Linked DNA regions of Homo sapiens. The protein of the gene in region 1 interacts with the protein of each later gene in a biochemical or structural test. Each region holds a gene or a part of one and is shown on either strand. Other genes may lie near its edges.

Region 1 (7,987 bases):
TACAGAATTAGCATCTTCATTTTGACAGACCCAAGTGGTTTCTATGCACATCAGAGTGTGAGTCAATCTGCCCCTGACTACTCTTCCCCTTCCTACTTGAGCTTTCCAGCCACCCTGACTGCACAGCTACTCCTCTAAGGAAGTGATTTTCGATGTGTTGTCCCCAAGCCAGCAGCATCGGCATCACCAGGAAACTTGTTAGGAATGAACATTCTCAGGCCTCACCCCAGACTTAATGGACCAGAAATCCAACGGTGGGGGCTCATCAACGGGTGTTGACCAAGCCTTCCAAGGGACTCTGATGCTCAAGTTTAGGACCACTGCCCTAAGACATCAAGGCTTTCCTGTCACAGGACCTTTCTATCTGGTGTTGCCTCTACCTCCCCTACTCTTCCTTCATTCCCTCACTCTATCATATTTCTGCTAAAATGCCACCTCCTGTGGGAGGCCCTGCCTGACCACTCTTTAATAAAATAGCAAACCTATCTCACCTCAGCACTCTTTCCCACTTTACCTTTCATTTGTTTCTTTTTTATTGTACTTTTCACCATTTGTCACACTTTACAGTTATTTGTTTATTTGTATGTCTCCTTCTTCCCCCAATCAAGAGAGTCATCTCCTTAAGGACTTGTTTTATTCTCTACTGTATCCCAGCATCTAGAAAAATGCTTAAGACACATTAGGCATTTAATAAGTGTATACTACATGAACAAATTGGGTAATGAATAGATTGAGGCTTGCTCTCACTGGATGTACACTTCTTTGGGAGGTTCTCCCTGCCCCCCATGACTCCATCCATTCTGACTGACCACTGGGGCCAAAGTCTGAGTGGGCTTGTTCACTTCACTCTGAAAGAGCTCCCTCAATCCCATTATAATCCAGGCCAGGTGTCAGGAAATACAGATTTTTGCTCAGGACAAACCTCAATGTAAGAATAGATGGACCAGAACAAAGTCCCTCTGTTTAAAAGATGATTCAAATCTGGGTCCTACTGACAGTGGGACAGTGATGTCATTACTGTTTGTGGTTAATCGTACTGCTACCATAAGAATAGGTCAGGGTTAAAGAGGTTAAGCAATCTAGGAAATGTGTGCATGAGGAAGGGAATGATACAGGGATAGCCCTAGTTAGTCACTGGCAAGTGAAATCATGATGCCTGCTAATACCTAACACCTCCTTGGTGTCCTATGCATAAACGGAGCTGGTTCCTGAATGAGCCACAGGCTTTGCCAAATGAGGTCTCTGTTGGCTCGTGAGACTGTGGTAATTAATCTCTGCCTTGGCTTCCCAGCCTGTAAATCAGGGCTGTCCTCAGAATGAAGTACAATCCAGTGATTCTGTCTGAAGTTGTTGCATTTTACAGAAAATGTTTCATGTCACATGAGAGTTATGATAAGTGATGCTCTTTTAATGCTTGAGAAATTTTCCTACAAAGATCTTCCCTTTTAAGAGTCTTGCTTACTGAAACAGGATGAGGCAAGGATTAAGCAATAACAGCAGTAGGAGAGTATATTCTGCTAAGCACCTGAGAACAGATGTTTGGAGATACGGTTTAGAATGGATCTATCCATATTCCCCTGGTCTTCCTCATGATGTGGGCAGCACCTTGAGCTTGGTTTTGGAGGGTATCATCGTTTTTTCATGGGAAAGAGCAAAACACACTCATTTACTTTGGGACAAGAGGCAGAATGGTACACTGGTAGAAAGAGCCCTGGATGGAAAGGCAGGAGTTTTGATGCTCACTTGGCCACTTGATTACATAGTACATCACTTCATGTCTCTGGACTCTATTTCTTTCTCCATTTCTCTCAATAGTCTTTCTTTCTTTTTCTTTCTTTCTTTCTTTCTCTTTCTTTCTTTCTTTCTTTCTTTCTTTCTTTCTTTCTTTCTTTCTCTCTCTCTTTCTTTCTTTCTTACTTTCTACCTTTCCTTCCTTCCTTCCTTCCTTCCTTCCTTCCTTCCTTCCTTCCTTCCTTCCTTCCTTCTTTCCTTCCTTCCTTCCTTCCTTCCTTCCTTTTTTCTTCCTCTTTCTTTTTTTGTGAGACAGAGTCTGGCTCTGTCACCCAGGCTGGAGTGCAGTGGCATGATCTTGGCTCACTGTAACCTCTGCGTCCTGGGTTCAAGCAATTCTCCTGCCTCAGCCTCCCGAGTACCTGGGACTACAGGTGCACGCCACCATGCCCAGCTAATTTTTGTACTTTTAGTAGAGACAGGGTTTTACCATGTTGGCCAGGCTGGTCTTGAACTCCTGACCCCAGGTGATTCATCCACCTTGGCCTCCCAAAGTGCTGGGATTACAGGCATGAGCCACAACGCCCAGCCATTTTCTAAATAGTTTTCATCCTCCTTATCAGTGCTGCATCGAATCCCTTTTTTATAATCAGTGATCAGTAAAATCCCTTCTAACTTATGTCTTACTTCTAAGATTCTTAGACAAGATTTCTTGTCCCAAAATTGAAAACAGAGGCTATGACAATATGTGATACTCATCGGCCATTCACATTTGCTTAACTGGAATTTTTGCATTGTTTCAAAAAGTTTTGCCACATAAAGATTAATATTCAAAGATTTATAATGGCAAATACTAATTTTATTACGAAAGATGCCTTTTAATAATGTTCACTCAAATATTCTTTTTTTAAAAAAAATTCCACTTCCAGCTGCAGGCTTGGACCTCTTTCAAGGGGACATCCTCTTGCAGGTGAGTACCTGTCAATGATGCAATAAGTTTCTCAGGACAGGCAGTACCACTGGGTGTGAGTCTCTGCTCTGCGGCCAGCCCTGGGATGGGCACTGTGAAGGAGATGAGAGAAATCTCATCTATAATCTGTTCCAGTGAGGAGTTCCACTGTAGTTCCTAAGGACAAAAACAGAGGGAAAATAAGTAAACAGCACAAAAGGGTCTAAAATGATTAAATGGCTTATCTATCCAGTTTTCTTGGGATTGCAGGCCCCCTTTATTTTGTTCTTAATAATTTCTCTGATTTTTCCAAATTATCTCTCAAGGACTTCTATTGCTTTCATAATCAAAAGACAAATTGCCACTAAACTGTTTGAGTTGTGTGATAGACTGTTTGCTCTGTGAGAGTTTAGTGAAGGAGGAGGTCAAGGTGACCTTGAGGACTAGGCTTCCCACTCACCTTTACCTTTGTTTTCACAGAAATCCAGAAATGGCCTGAGAGACCCAAACACCAGGTGGACGTTCCCCATTCCTTACATCTTGGCTGATAATTTGGGTAATATTAATTGTTCTTAATTAGGAAGTTTCAGTTTAACTCTCTCTCTCCTCTCAGCCTGTCCATGGGCTTCACATTGGGAGTAACCACCACGATCTAAGAGAGTTTTCAAGTCCTGATGCATCTTTATCTAATGGGGAGAAAGACATAACATTACATCAAAAGCATTGCTGCTTAACCAGTCTGAGATACACAGAATCCAAGAATAACTTTTAAAATGCAACACACATTAAAGTATTAGTATAACCAGGAGAACATAAAAGAGCAAAACCTAATGAAATATAATTTGCATCAGAACAAGGAAAAGTTTGCACTTTGTTTAGGTGAATCTAAATGTAGTGTGAGGATACTATTTTCAGCATATTGATTTCTTCTCTTTTTCTTACAAGAGAAACATGCCACACTTTGAGAAATAGGAAAGTCCATATTTCACATGTTCACAATCCTTTTTTCTTGGTGTTATTAATGTCTACTCTTTTCTCTCTCTTAAGAAAAAGATCTGAATATGTTACATTTTACTCATTGTTAGAAATAATGACTAGTAGAATGACTTCCCTGCCTTTTAGCTAAGGTTGCATATAGAACTAGCAACTGGTAGAAATAAGTAAATATTAGAAGCCACATGTAGGCACTGGCTGACCCTCAAGCAGTTGACTGACAGCTGAGCAGCCATGATGACTCAATGTCTGCAAGGCCCCTCCTGCTTAGACAGATGAACAAGATTAGAGTGAAGAAGGGAAGCCAGGACAGGGTTGCTTAGTCTTGTTGGGCTGCTAGGCTGCTCCTACTCTCAGGAGATGTAGATTATGTTTCAGTATTTTCCATCCTCTTTATCAGTGCTGCCTCGAATCCCTGTTTATGGAGAACAGCTAGATATAAACAAATGTTATTGTTCACAGCTATTAGTTGGAAAATTGAGTTGTTTTCTCCAGTGTTTGCCTTGCAAATTCACGGAACATCAATACTTAATGGAACATGATTTAAGAAACACCAACTTTAAAAGGGGTTCTTTCCCATTACAATTTGTTTTATCCTGGTTGTCACATCTGCACCACCCTATTATGTGCCAGGCTCTGTGCCTTCATCTGATATTTTATGTAACCTTTACCATGCCTCTGTAAGGTGTAAGGTAGTGCTTCTCAGACTTTAATGTGCATAGGACTCAGATGAGGATCCTGTTAACCTACAGAGTAGGTCAGCGTTGGTGTGTGAGATGTTGCATGTCCAACGGTCCTCTAGTGATGCTGATGCTATTGGTCCCCACGCAGACCACAGCTTAAGTAGTAAGGTCTCTCTAGTTGCAAGATAGGTAAGAAATTATATTTGAGAGTGATTTGAGACAAGTGAACTGACATAAGATAAAGGTATTAAGGATACAGCAGTATTTCTCAAGCAATACCACGTGAAGGTCACCTTTAGTGTTAAAGTTCAGATGCCCAGACCCAGACCACTGTGAAAGCAAACTTTCTAACTAGAGTTGAATATTTGTATAGAATTGTTTTATTCAAGTTAAATTTACATAGAGTGAAATACACAAATCAGTATATAAGGCTTTTGACAAACACATATACCTATATAATGCACACTTCCATCATTCCATAAAGTTCCTTTCTAGGCAGTTCCCATCCCCACTCCTTAAGAGACAACCACCATTCTGATTTTCCCCTATGTATTAGTTTTGCCTGATTTACAACTGATTTACAGATAAATGAACTCATATACCATAGTATTTGTTTTATAAATACTATGTGTCTGGCTTCTTTGACTTATGTTTTTTAAGTTCTTCCATATTGTTGTAGATCAACAGTAAATTCTTTTTTTAAACTACTCAGTAATATTTCTTTGTAATACTATACTGTAAATTACTGTCCATTTTTCTGTTGGGGCTAGTATGAAGAAAACTGTTATGATAATTCTTATACAAGTTTATGTGAATACATTTTTTATTTATCTTTGGTAAATGCCTAGGAATATAATTGCTTGGTCATATGGATAACTATGTAAGAAAACGCCAAACAGTTTTCCAAAGTGGCTGTGCCATTGTACACTCCTCCTGAAAATATATGAGTGTTTCATTTGCTCCACATCCTCGCTAATATTGATAGCATTAATCTTTGTAGTTATAGCCATTTTAGTAGTTGTAAAATGGTATCTCCCTACGATTTTAATTTGCATTTCCCTAATGATTAGTGATATTTAGCACATTTTAGTATGCTACTGGCTATTTTTGTATCTTCTTTTACGAGGGTCTGTCCAACTCCTTCATGAGTTTTAAAAATTATATTGTTTGTCTTTTTATTATTTGTAGGATTTTATATATTATGGCTAAAGCCCTTTTTCAGATATATGTATTATAAATATTTTCTGTTAGTCTGTTACTTACCTATTTGTTTTTGTTTTTCAAGCAGTGAATTTTGAAATGCAAAAGCTTTAAATGCTGATAAAGTGTGATTTATCAATTTTTTAACTTATGGTTTGTGTTTTTATATTCTAAGAAATATGTGCTTAAACCAAGTCACAAAGATATATTCCAATATTTTTTGAAGTTGTATGGTTTCAATTTTTGTCTATAATTGATTGCAAACTAATTTTGTGTACAACAGGATGAAGAGATTGAGACTGATTGGTTGGTATTTATTAGCCCAGTTGTTCCAGCAACATTTGCTATAAAATTTTGCTTTCCTCATTAAGTACTCTTCGCAAGAGTCTCGTTTGCCAAGTTTGCCAAGACTCCTCATTTCTTGATCTGGTATCTCTGTTTTCCTATCTTATTCTACTTGTTTATCATCATGTCAAAAATCACTATGTTGATTACTCTAGCTTCACAGTTAACCTTGAATTGAGTGTTCCAGCTTTGCTCTCCAATTTCAAGACTGTTTAGCCTACTCCAGACCTTTTGCATTTTCATGTATATTTTACAATCAATTTCTCTAAAAAGCCTGCTGGGATTTTGATAGGAATGTGTTGATTCTGTACATAAATTTGTAGAAAACTAATTTCTTAAAAATATTGAGTCCTATAATCCATAAACATGGTACATCAGTCCATTTATTTCAGTCTTCTTTAATTTATCTAATCCGTGTTTTATAAATTTCAGTGTAGAGACCTTGTGTGTCTTTGGTAAATTCATTTCTAAGCATTTTATATTTTTGATGCTATTAAAATGAAATTTAAAAAATTTTACTACATAATGTTTTCTGCTAATATATAAAAATACAATGGATTTTTATATATTGATTTTGTATTCTGTTACCTTGCTAAATTTACTCATTAATTTTAATTGTTGATTTGTAGATTTTTTTAGGACTTTTAGTAAAAATTCTTCTTGCCTTTTAATATAGACAGTGTTACTGGTTCCTTTCCAATTTTTACACCATATATTGCTTTTTCTTGTCTTATTGTTCTGGCTAGGACCTTCATTACCATGTTGAATAGAAGTGGTAAGAGTGGACATCTTTGCCTCATTGGCTTGTTTAGTGGTAGTATTCAATACTTCATTCATGTGGGACACTGTAGGTTTTCCACAGATGCCCTTTGTCAGATGGTATGTTTTCATCATGAATAGTTGTTACAGTGTATCAAATGCTTTTCCTGCAACAATTAAGTATAATTTTTATTCCTTATTGTGTAATATGGTAATAACATCAAATTTGAATGCTAAATCAACTTTGCATTTCTCAGATGAGCCCTACTTGGTTATGATGTATTATCCTTTTCATATTTTGCTGGATTCCTAATATTTTGTTATACATTTTTGTGTTTATATTCATAAATAGTATAAGTTTCTAATTTACCTTTTTGTAATATCTTTATTAGGCTTTAGTAATAAAGTTATGTAGCTCTCAAAACCATCTTGAAAATTTTTCCTCTTCTTTTATCTTTTGAATAAGTTTGTGTATGATCAAAATTTTTTCTTTCTTAAATGTTGGTAAAAATCACCAATAAAATAAATAATAAATTTGTTTGTTGGTAAAATTCACCGATAAAATAAAATAACCAAGTAATGGAATTTTCTTTGTGGGATAGTATTTTTATAATGAATTCGATTCATTTAATAATTATAGAATTATTCTTATTTTCTATTATGCTGCTTTTATTAAATTGTATTTTTCAGTAATAAAAAATTAAGATTATCTTAATAGATGCAGAAAAAGCATTTGACAAAATTCAACAACTATTTCAACTAAGTTGTCAAAATAGTGGCATAATATCTCATTATCTTTATAATGTCTGTAGAATCTTTAGTGATAGTCCTATTTCACTTTTGATATTGGCAATTTGTGTTTTCCCTCTTTTTTTCTTGACATGTCCTGCCAGGGACTTATTGATTTTATTAATATTTTTACAGAATTGACTTTTGATTTGTTAATTTTCTCTTGCTTCTCTGCTTTATATTTAGTTGCTTTCTGTTACCTTTATTATTTCCTTTCTCCTACTTATTTCAGGTTTAGTTTACTCTTCTTTTTTGACATTCTTAAGATGAAAATTCATATCACTTATTTTAAACCTTCATTTTTTCTAATGTAATATATTCTACAACATGGCTACTAAAGCTATAAATTTTATCTGAAGCACTGCTTTACTGCCTTCTTCAAATTTTGATATGGTGTATGCTTATTAAAATTTAGTTTATTAATAGATACTTCATAATTTATCTTGTGAATATTTTCATCCATGGATGGGATAAAAGTATGTTTACATTTTTAAAAATATTGTCCTTAGCGTTAATATTATGCAAGCATTTTACAATA
Region 2 (8,655 bases), on another chromosome or scaffold:
TACAGATTGGAATTTTAAAAACTGGCTTTCAAGACCCCAATAGAGGAGTAATAGGGCCCAGGATACAAAGTTGTATTTGGCTCAATTAAAAAAAAAAAAAAAAAGAACATGTAAAAATAACATGTTTGTTATAGGGAGAATTTAAATCCAGACATACAATGAAGAGTACAGTTTAGTAATTCCTAAATACATTGTAGAACGGTAAATGTCTAGAAGATTACGAACTGCAATCCCTGCATTTAAAAACAAGGAAACACAGGTAAGCAAGGTGAACTAATCCACTTGCTAAAGATAAAATATTTAATAAGTCACTGTTTCAGGATTAGATCTCAATGCTCCTGCTTACCAGTCCATTGCTATCCCCTCTATACTACATTTCTTTTGCAGGTTGTCATGAACTTTTATTTCTAATTTAGGAACACCTTTTTATTTCCCCCAATATAATAAAAAAGGCAAAGAGCTCACTTTGTTTTCATTTAACTTGAGACCAATATACCTTTCATCATACCCAATGTAAAAGGCATGGAAGCAAGTTCCTTTAAAAACATTTACAGGCAAGTAAATATGTGTGGCAATTAATTAAAATTGCAACATGCTGATTGATAGAATTATAATTTCTTTGCCTGTCATATCAACACCTTTAACTTCTTTTAACTAAAAGAAATTTTTTTTTTCAAAAAGGAAATGCCTCTCAAGGAACTTTTCAATCTTGATGAGAAGTTATTACTATGGGAAAAGGATACCATGTTTATAATGAAAGTTCATATGTTCTTCAACTCAGGGTTAAAGAAAAGAAAAAGTTACCTTTGATGTATGCATATTGGTCAAGAAATCTGCTTCTAATGCTTTCATTTCCTCTTCTGAATCTGAGTAAAATCAAAATCAGGTTTACTATAATTACATATCATATAATTATATCATAATCTACAGATTTTAGGTTAATCTAAAAAAAAATCTTAGAGGTTAGTGTCTTTCTTATGTATTTTCTTAAAAATAGTAATCCTAAAAAACAAATTATAGTTATACTTTAGCATAATAGGAAGCTAAAATAGTAGAAGCACTTCTAAGAAAATAAGCATATGATTATTTTTCAGACAGCTATTGATCACTGGGAGTTGTTTAATCTTTGAATTTCAGGCTTTAAAAATGTGATTACATTGTATAACACATATTTTACCAAATATGCTAGAGTAGCTTATTTCTTACCAGCCACAGTTTACATATATAGAAAATATGCATATTAACATTTAAAAACACAACATAATGAAGACTATACAAGAGACTTTTTCAAGACAAAACCAAAGGGAATTGCTTACTGATAATTTTAGAATAATAAAGATACTGAGGTTTACTTAACTTGAGATGTTTTTTACAAAACACACGTTGAAAGAATTGTATTGTACTTTAAGAGAATTCAAAATTATGTATCCTCAATTTTTTCATAGGCATTTAAGGAAATTGTTTAAAGCAAAAGTGGAGCTGTTCAACAACACATGTACAACAGCATTGAAAATGGATCTCTGGATTTTTAAAAAACTCTATCCAAGTTTCTGTTAATGAATATTTTACAGAGAAGGAAAATTTGGAAAATACTATACAATAATAAAAATAAAGTTAAAAATGACTCTATCTTCCTTGTACTACACACTCAGTAAAAAGAAATGCCACAATTGGAGAACCCATTGGCTTAATTTTACCTAGAACCTAAATTATACAAGAGATCTTTTCTCACTATTTGTTAGAGACATAATCTGTTTTAGGAATTTATGAACAATGTATACCAAAATCCTTATAACTATTGCATTATTACAACAAGTAGTTTCAAGTTAATAAACACAGTGCTTAATCAATAACCCAGTTTTTCTTCCAGAAGTATGTGAATCTTTAATCTCATATAACTTTCAGATAAAATCATAATTATAGAAAAGTTTGTTTTTTCTCATAAGATTTAAAAAGTAGAAGCTGAAAGTTATGTTCTGATGATTAAAATAAATTTAAAATTTTGTATAAATCACATTTATATCTTCTTAGATTTTAATTTCATAATTTAAATCAAATGATAGCATGAGTTTGAGTTAAACATTTCCATGTCATATTTATGATACATAAAAGCACAGAACAGGTTAAATTATTTTTGCTGCATTTGCTTCCTAATGTGTTCTTTTCCCTTTGAAGTGTTCATTGTAATATTTCTTAAATATTAAGTAGAGCCTTTTGCAATGGTTGTAATATTTCATGTTATACCTTTCAATTTAAGTCTTATTTTCAAAGTGAGTTATTCGTAGATACTTAGGACTATATAACTTCTTTCAAACCACATGCAAAACACTCTAAAGTCAAATAATTTCCATCAATATAAGAATACCAATTTTCCAATTGTATTTTGTATTAACTTAAATGGCATGGAAAAAATGCCAAACAGTTATATTAATAGCACACTTATTAGACTATGCAAATTCTGTTCTCAAAAAGGATCTGGAATATTTTTGTATTTTTCTAGAAATAATTTTCTACAAATAATGCTTCATTTTTCACTAAGTATCAATTTTCACTTTATTTGTTATCTTAACACAAACAAGAAAATAATACGGGGACTATTACAAGGGCGTGAGGGCCACCGCTTCCTAAGAGAATGAATGAGGATGAGAGTAAAACATTTTGAATGGAATGGGATTTAATGATGGGTTTGCAGGTTGACAGCCACTGCCTCTGTATTTCTCATTAGATAATGATCAGCCTAATTGAAAGTTTTGTAGGGTTTTTTTCCCTCTAGTTGTTGAATTCCAAAGGAGGTCGTGCAGTGTTTCATTGAAATCCCTTTTATTGCTTTGCAGATTTTAAAAGAGAAAATACATCTCTCAGTAATCATAAAGGCAGAGAAAGAGATACTCAGTTTCTGTCACTAAAAGGTAAATCCTGAATAAAAGGGAGCAACTCTTCTCCCCAGATACATTAACATAAGTAGCAACACACTGCAAAAGAGAAAAAAGAAATCACTTCAGGGAGTTGTGAAATTCTGTTTTGCTTACCTGAGCACAGACTCCAGGAGCTGAAAGCCAGGAGTAGCATGCATACAAGCTGGATTTTCATTCCTGCCATCATCTTTCAGCCTTCTAACAAGCCAAGTCCGTAAAAGTCAGAAGCACACTGAAGGGGGCTCTCTCTAGCACTTCCTCTTTCCTTCAGCTGGCTTTGAAAGTGAGTGAACTATGAGAGGTGCTCTGGCCATTCCCCTATATATATAAGCAGGAGGATGATGTCATTGATTGTACAGACATTATCTTTGCAGGATGTGCCCTATCTTCACCTCCATCCCTCCCCTCTTTGCCCTGCTTTCTCCTCCCCTTTTCCTTTGTCCCCCCTGCTCTCCTCCCCCATTTCTGAACCTTGAGTGAAAGTGACGATCTTCCCTAATTGCTGCTGCTGCTGCTTTGGATTTCTGACGCACAGAAGGAGTCATTCAACTGCACTGACATACAGCATACATACAGCATACTGACAAAGAACCCCCAGTATCATCCTTTTCCCACTTCTCATTCCCCCACTCCAAAAGTTGTCATTTTGATTTTGTGAAACATGAGATCTGTTATTTCTAATTTTTAAGGAAAATCTCCAGGATGAATGCATGAAATCAGTGATTCCTTAGGCTTGGAAGTTCTTGAAGAGTTAGGGTGCTTCTCTGGTAATTCAAACTTCTGAGCAAATGTTTAGTGGTTCCAAAACTAATACAGGTTTTAAATAATCCATGCTGGAATAAGATGGAATAGAGACAGAGAATCAGTTATAAAAATTAAGCAATTAAGTTTAGAGAATAGAAAGAAAATCAATAAAAAGAAATAATAGATCCAGGGAATAAGATATTATTTCCTAACAAATAGAAAATATTTTATTGTAAGTAATGAGAGATGACTGAACTATGTGTGCTGACTTTTGGTTGAATGTATTAGAAAAACAATTTCATGTTTATAAAATCCAGCTCTAAATTACTTACATTCTAGCAGGTAAAAATTTGTGTTGTTGTATCACTGACTTTTTTTCTGTACATTATCTCTTTTTATGCCTATATTTTTCTGCTCTTTTTGAATTCATTCTTGATGCCATGTCTCACTCTTTGTATAATTCCCTTCTCAACAGTTTTTACTATTGCATCGGCTTTCTTTCCCTGTTATAATACTCTTTTCACCATAAAAAAAGAGATTGTACTTTTGGAAAGGAGACAATCCTAAATAACCACCATTCACCAAAGTCACTTTTCTATGATAGTCTTCATGTATTTCATGAGTTACACTGATACCCATTCTTTGTCTGAGTTCTCAAAAGAAAATTGTTCAAAATGCCTTTTAGAGTAAAACTTTCTTCTTGTAGTAAGCATTTCAAGATACATGGGGTAATTTGACAAGTCAGTGCTGTTAGAGATGTGAATATTTGAATGTAAAGTTGTCTGAGTCTTGTTTAATTTTTAAATAAATCAATCATGTAGTAACAGTTGAGAAAAAATAGGATTGGTTCCTATAGATAATTGATTTATATTATACAATCTATGAGTTTAACTTTTTCACCTTTACCCAAAACTTAAGCAAAGCGATTAAATCCAAACATTTAATAATTACTTAGAATAGCAAGGAGTCTTTCATATAATACCAGAAATTTAATAATAACTGATATATTTATTACTTTTAGTTTGTTTTCTGAACTTACATAAAACACAATATTGAACATACTCACATGGAGGAAGGTTTCTGTAAAGTATTTAGTTGACAAATGTGAAATACATACGTCTAGATGTTTTCTGCTTTCCTACCATTAGGGGGAGCAATGGAAGCTTGAAACACTTGGTTTTCACTTAACAGAGTCTCAGTGAGGATTTGTGCTTACTTTCCTGTTACTATCAGAGCATCTTTGTGACAGAATCCTCTTAAAGCCACTTTGATTAACAAATCGGGAAAATTATATATACTTTGCATGATAATTAAATTAGTTGTTTTCTCTGCTTTTGAATTGCAAATACAAAGAATGATCTTTTAAAATGTGTGATAGCAGTCTAATAGTAAAAAGGAAATGTGATTCTTATTTTCCTCAGATGATTTCTTCAATATGTTGACAAAATTGATCCCTAATTAATTAGAAAAAAGGGGGAGAAGAATTAATGGAAATTCATTTTAAATATATAACATGGATATTAGTTGTTAATGTGAAAATTGAGATATGTGATAAATATTCAAGAATAGGGGAAACATTAAGTTATGTCAAATAATTCAAATTCAAATAGATGCTATATGCTACTTTTCTTTTGGGGAAAAAAGATGTATAACTTTGGTAAAATTATGATGTAGATAAACTTTGACCTCTAATTGGTATTTTCTTTAATGTGTTAGGCTTTTTGTTTCTTGCTCTAATCTAATGCCTTCAAGCTACACATAAACCAATAAAACAATTTGTTGTAGGGATAAAGGTTAAGTATGTATTTTTCCACTTAAAAAGTACCCTACGAACTTCCTAAATGATGCCTTTAATGCAGGATTGTAGACACCTTGCTATGGAGATGGGTGAACTGTTTTTATTTTAAAGGCTTTTTACCCCAGATCCTTTTTCTTTTTTCTTTTTTTTTTTTTTTGAGATGGAGCTTCTCTCTGTCACCAGGCTGGAGTGCAGTGGTGTGATCTCGGCTCACTGCAGTCTCCACCTCCTGGGTTCAAGCAACTCTCCTGCCTCAGCCCCCCGAGTAGCTGGGACTACAGGCACACCACCAGGCCCAGCTAATTCTTGTATTTTTAGTAGAGACGGGGTTTCACCATGTTGGCCAGGATGGTCTCGATCTCTTGACCTCATGATCCGCCCACCTCGGCCTCCCAAAGTGCTGGGATTACAGGCGTGAGCCACCATGCCCGGCATACCTTAGATCCTTCTAAGGGTTACCTAGTTCTTAAAATATCTGATAAAGATTTTAAGCATTGTCCTTTAATAATATTCCTGTGTTGGCCTTCTTAAGTGGATGTTACCTGTTAGGTACCTGTTGATTACAACATCTCTAAAGTAGGTAGATTTCTAAGCTTGTACTGTTACTTATGTCAGACCTTTATTAGGTAATTGCTGAAAATAATCAACAGAGACACCTGAAGAATTGGCAGTTAGAAAGAGTGGTCTGTAAGCTTATTTTGTTTGGAGAAGGGCAAGCTCTGGAACCAACTGATCAAGGGTTGGTTTTTCAGTTCCTTATGGTTTTTTCCTATAGCTCTGGTGACTTTAATACCTCATTAACAGCTTCCAGGATTTTCCAATCTTTTGGTAACCTAAATACCTGAAACTTGGCCTGTTGTGTTTTTACAACCTGGAATCTCCCCTTCACCTTCCTATGATCATCCTGTATTTTATGGCTTAATCAACAAAAACATTTCCAAGTTTGAGTCCTGAAAGTAGTCTCGTCTACTTCTATTTTTCCTAGTTTTCTGTTAAATGCTCCGTAGTTTGTTTATACAGTTTATGGTAAACTGTAAACTGCTAGAAGGAGAACATTCTGACTTCTAAGGTTTATAATCCATAAGTGATCAATACATACTTACTAAATTAAATGAAAATACTGATTACGTTTAATTTCTTACATGCCCTTTCCATGTTTTAATTTTAAATGTTTCTTTCAGCCACACCTTTTAACACTCTTTTGTTATCATTAATCTTCATATTTTATGTGAGCTTTTATAGTCAGTTTTCTCAGCCTTTTCTCTCATCATCCTTTTCCTCTCTGACTGGAAATGTTAACTTTAAAAAAATCATTCAAGAAGATTGTCCTTGGATCATGTACAATCATCAGCTGAATGTTTAGATAAATTGTGAGTTTGCTCCATTTCTATAAATGAGTCTATCATTTGAAGCTGTAACTCTGATTCATCTGAACAAATAATGATGTCAAAGTCTGTGAACCCAATTGATTTTTCTGTTCAATTAAAGTATATTTTCTAGAAATACAGATGGATGTGTGCATGCATACACCCACATAGGATGTGTATAACCCAACCTTGGAGATTTAGGTAAATGTAAACAAACGTTCAGTTTCCCAATCTGCATGTAACCTTGCTTTGCCCATAATCCTTACAAATTCCTAGCTCATTTCCTTTCAGCTCTTCCTATCTCTGTTATTGCATCCATATAGGTAATTAACCTGGAAAAATTGATGACTGACTTCTGTAGTCAAAGCATATTTTGCAACTTAAACCGTAATTACAAAATACGGTTTGCTTGGGACTTACATGTTAATGAGTTACTGTATTTAACTAACCATGCTCCACATTGCAGCCATTGCTGACTTCACCTATAATCTTGCTTCTCGTGTCTAGGAAAAAATGTAAATACTCACAAAATCACCACCCATTATGTGTAATGCTCAGGTAGTTTTCCTTATAGGTCTCCCTTTTGAATAAGACCAAAATAAAAGTATTACAGAAAAAAATGTTCCTGACAAATTTCTTCTTTCATGTTTCTTAGTTTTATAAATTAGTGTAATTATCTAATGTAATAAATGAGACAAATTCTTATTATAAGAAAACTTTCTCTTTTCTTTTTTAATATTACAAAGTCTAAGAAAATTTCCATAGCACCTGCAATACCTGAAACAGAGCAGATGTACTTGAGCTACCGTCTATCAGGAGCAAATTCAGTGAAACACTTTTTTTCTTTTTCTCAAGAAGATATTACATGTTAAATTTGGAATGTAATGGTTTTATATTATTCATACTCCTTGGGTTTATGATTCTTTTTAAATTTACTGTGCTTTCCCAGTGAATCTGATAAGTCTTATGGTTTTGAATCCTATCTATTTCCTAATAACCTCCAAGTTTGTATCTCTGACTACTCAAATTGTATATGCAATCACCTCATTAGCAGCCCTACTTGGAGTTTCATTAGGCAGACTTATTGTCTAAAGTAAAACTTTTGATTCCTCCAAACATCTTTCTAATAATCTTCTGCCCCTCTAGAGTTTTTCATTTCAATTATTAGAACCATGATTTACTGAGTTGCACAGATCTAAAAACTAGAATCCATTTACATTGTTTCTCTCTCCCCTCCACTTCCAAGCTAGCAAAACCCCCTGGGGTGCAGGTCTGTTCCAAAATATATTTCAAATCTAACTACTTTTCCTTATGTCATTTTTGCCACCTAAGTCCAAGCCACCACCATCTTTCTCCTGCGCTGCCATAATAACCATTTGAGTAGTCTCCCTACAACCTTGATCCCTTTCAGCTTTCAAAAACTCCAGAAAAGTTTTTAAAAATGTAAATCTATTCCTGTCATTCTCTGCTTAAAACATTCTAAAGGTTTCCTCTTGTCATGCCTGATGATGGCCTATGCTACCTGAGTGGGTTTTGTCTTCCTCTCTATCATCATATTCCACCATTCTCCCCTTCTGTTCCTATGTTTCAAGCACATTGGTCTTCTGGCTTTTGTGCAACATGCTAAGCTTTTTTGTTAAAGATCTGCAATGAAAACTGTGATTACTGTTCATCAAATATTCATTCCCTTACTCCTCCCAGAGTGGATGAAATATACTTCCTCACTCTTTGACTTTAACTTAGGAAATGAGACTTGCTTTGGCCAGTGGGATGTTAGTAGACATAAGAAAAAGACAGACTTGATTTGTGCTTGACACATAGGGCTTTCCCT

The links. Proteins that work in one complex are often made in the same cells at the same time.
Region 2: of the proteins of MEP1A (region 1) and NTS, one has a biochemical effect on the other in vitro, tested with the Homo sapiens proteins (one study listed by BioGRID).

What each region holds. Positions count from the first base shown.
Region 1 is NC_000006.12:46,795,946-46,803,932, forward strand, and holds part of MEP1A (meprin A subunit alpha precursor), read left to right. Parts: intron 1-2,660; coding exon 2,661-2,701; intron 2,702-3,160; coding exon 3,161-3,236; intron 3,237-7,987.
Region 2 is NC_000012.12:85,868,851-85,877,505, reverse strand, and holds the start of NTS (neurotensin/neuromedin N preproprotein), read right to left. Parts: upstream 3,212-8,655; 5' UTR 3,103-3,211; coding exon 3,030-3,102; intron 867-3,029; coding exon 805-866; intron 1-804. UniProt on the Homo sapiens protein: Neurotensin may play an endocrine or paracrine role in the regulation of fat metabolism. It causes contraction of smooth muscle.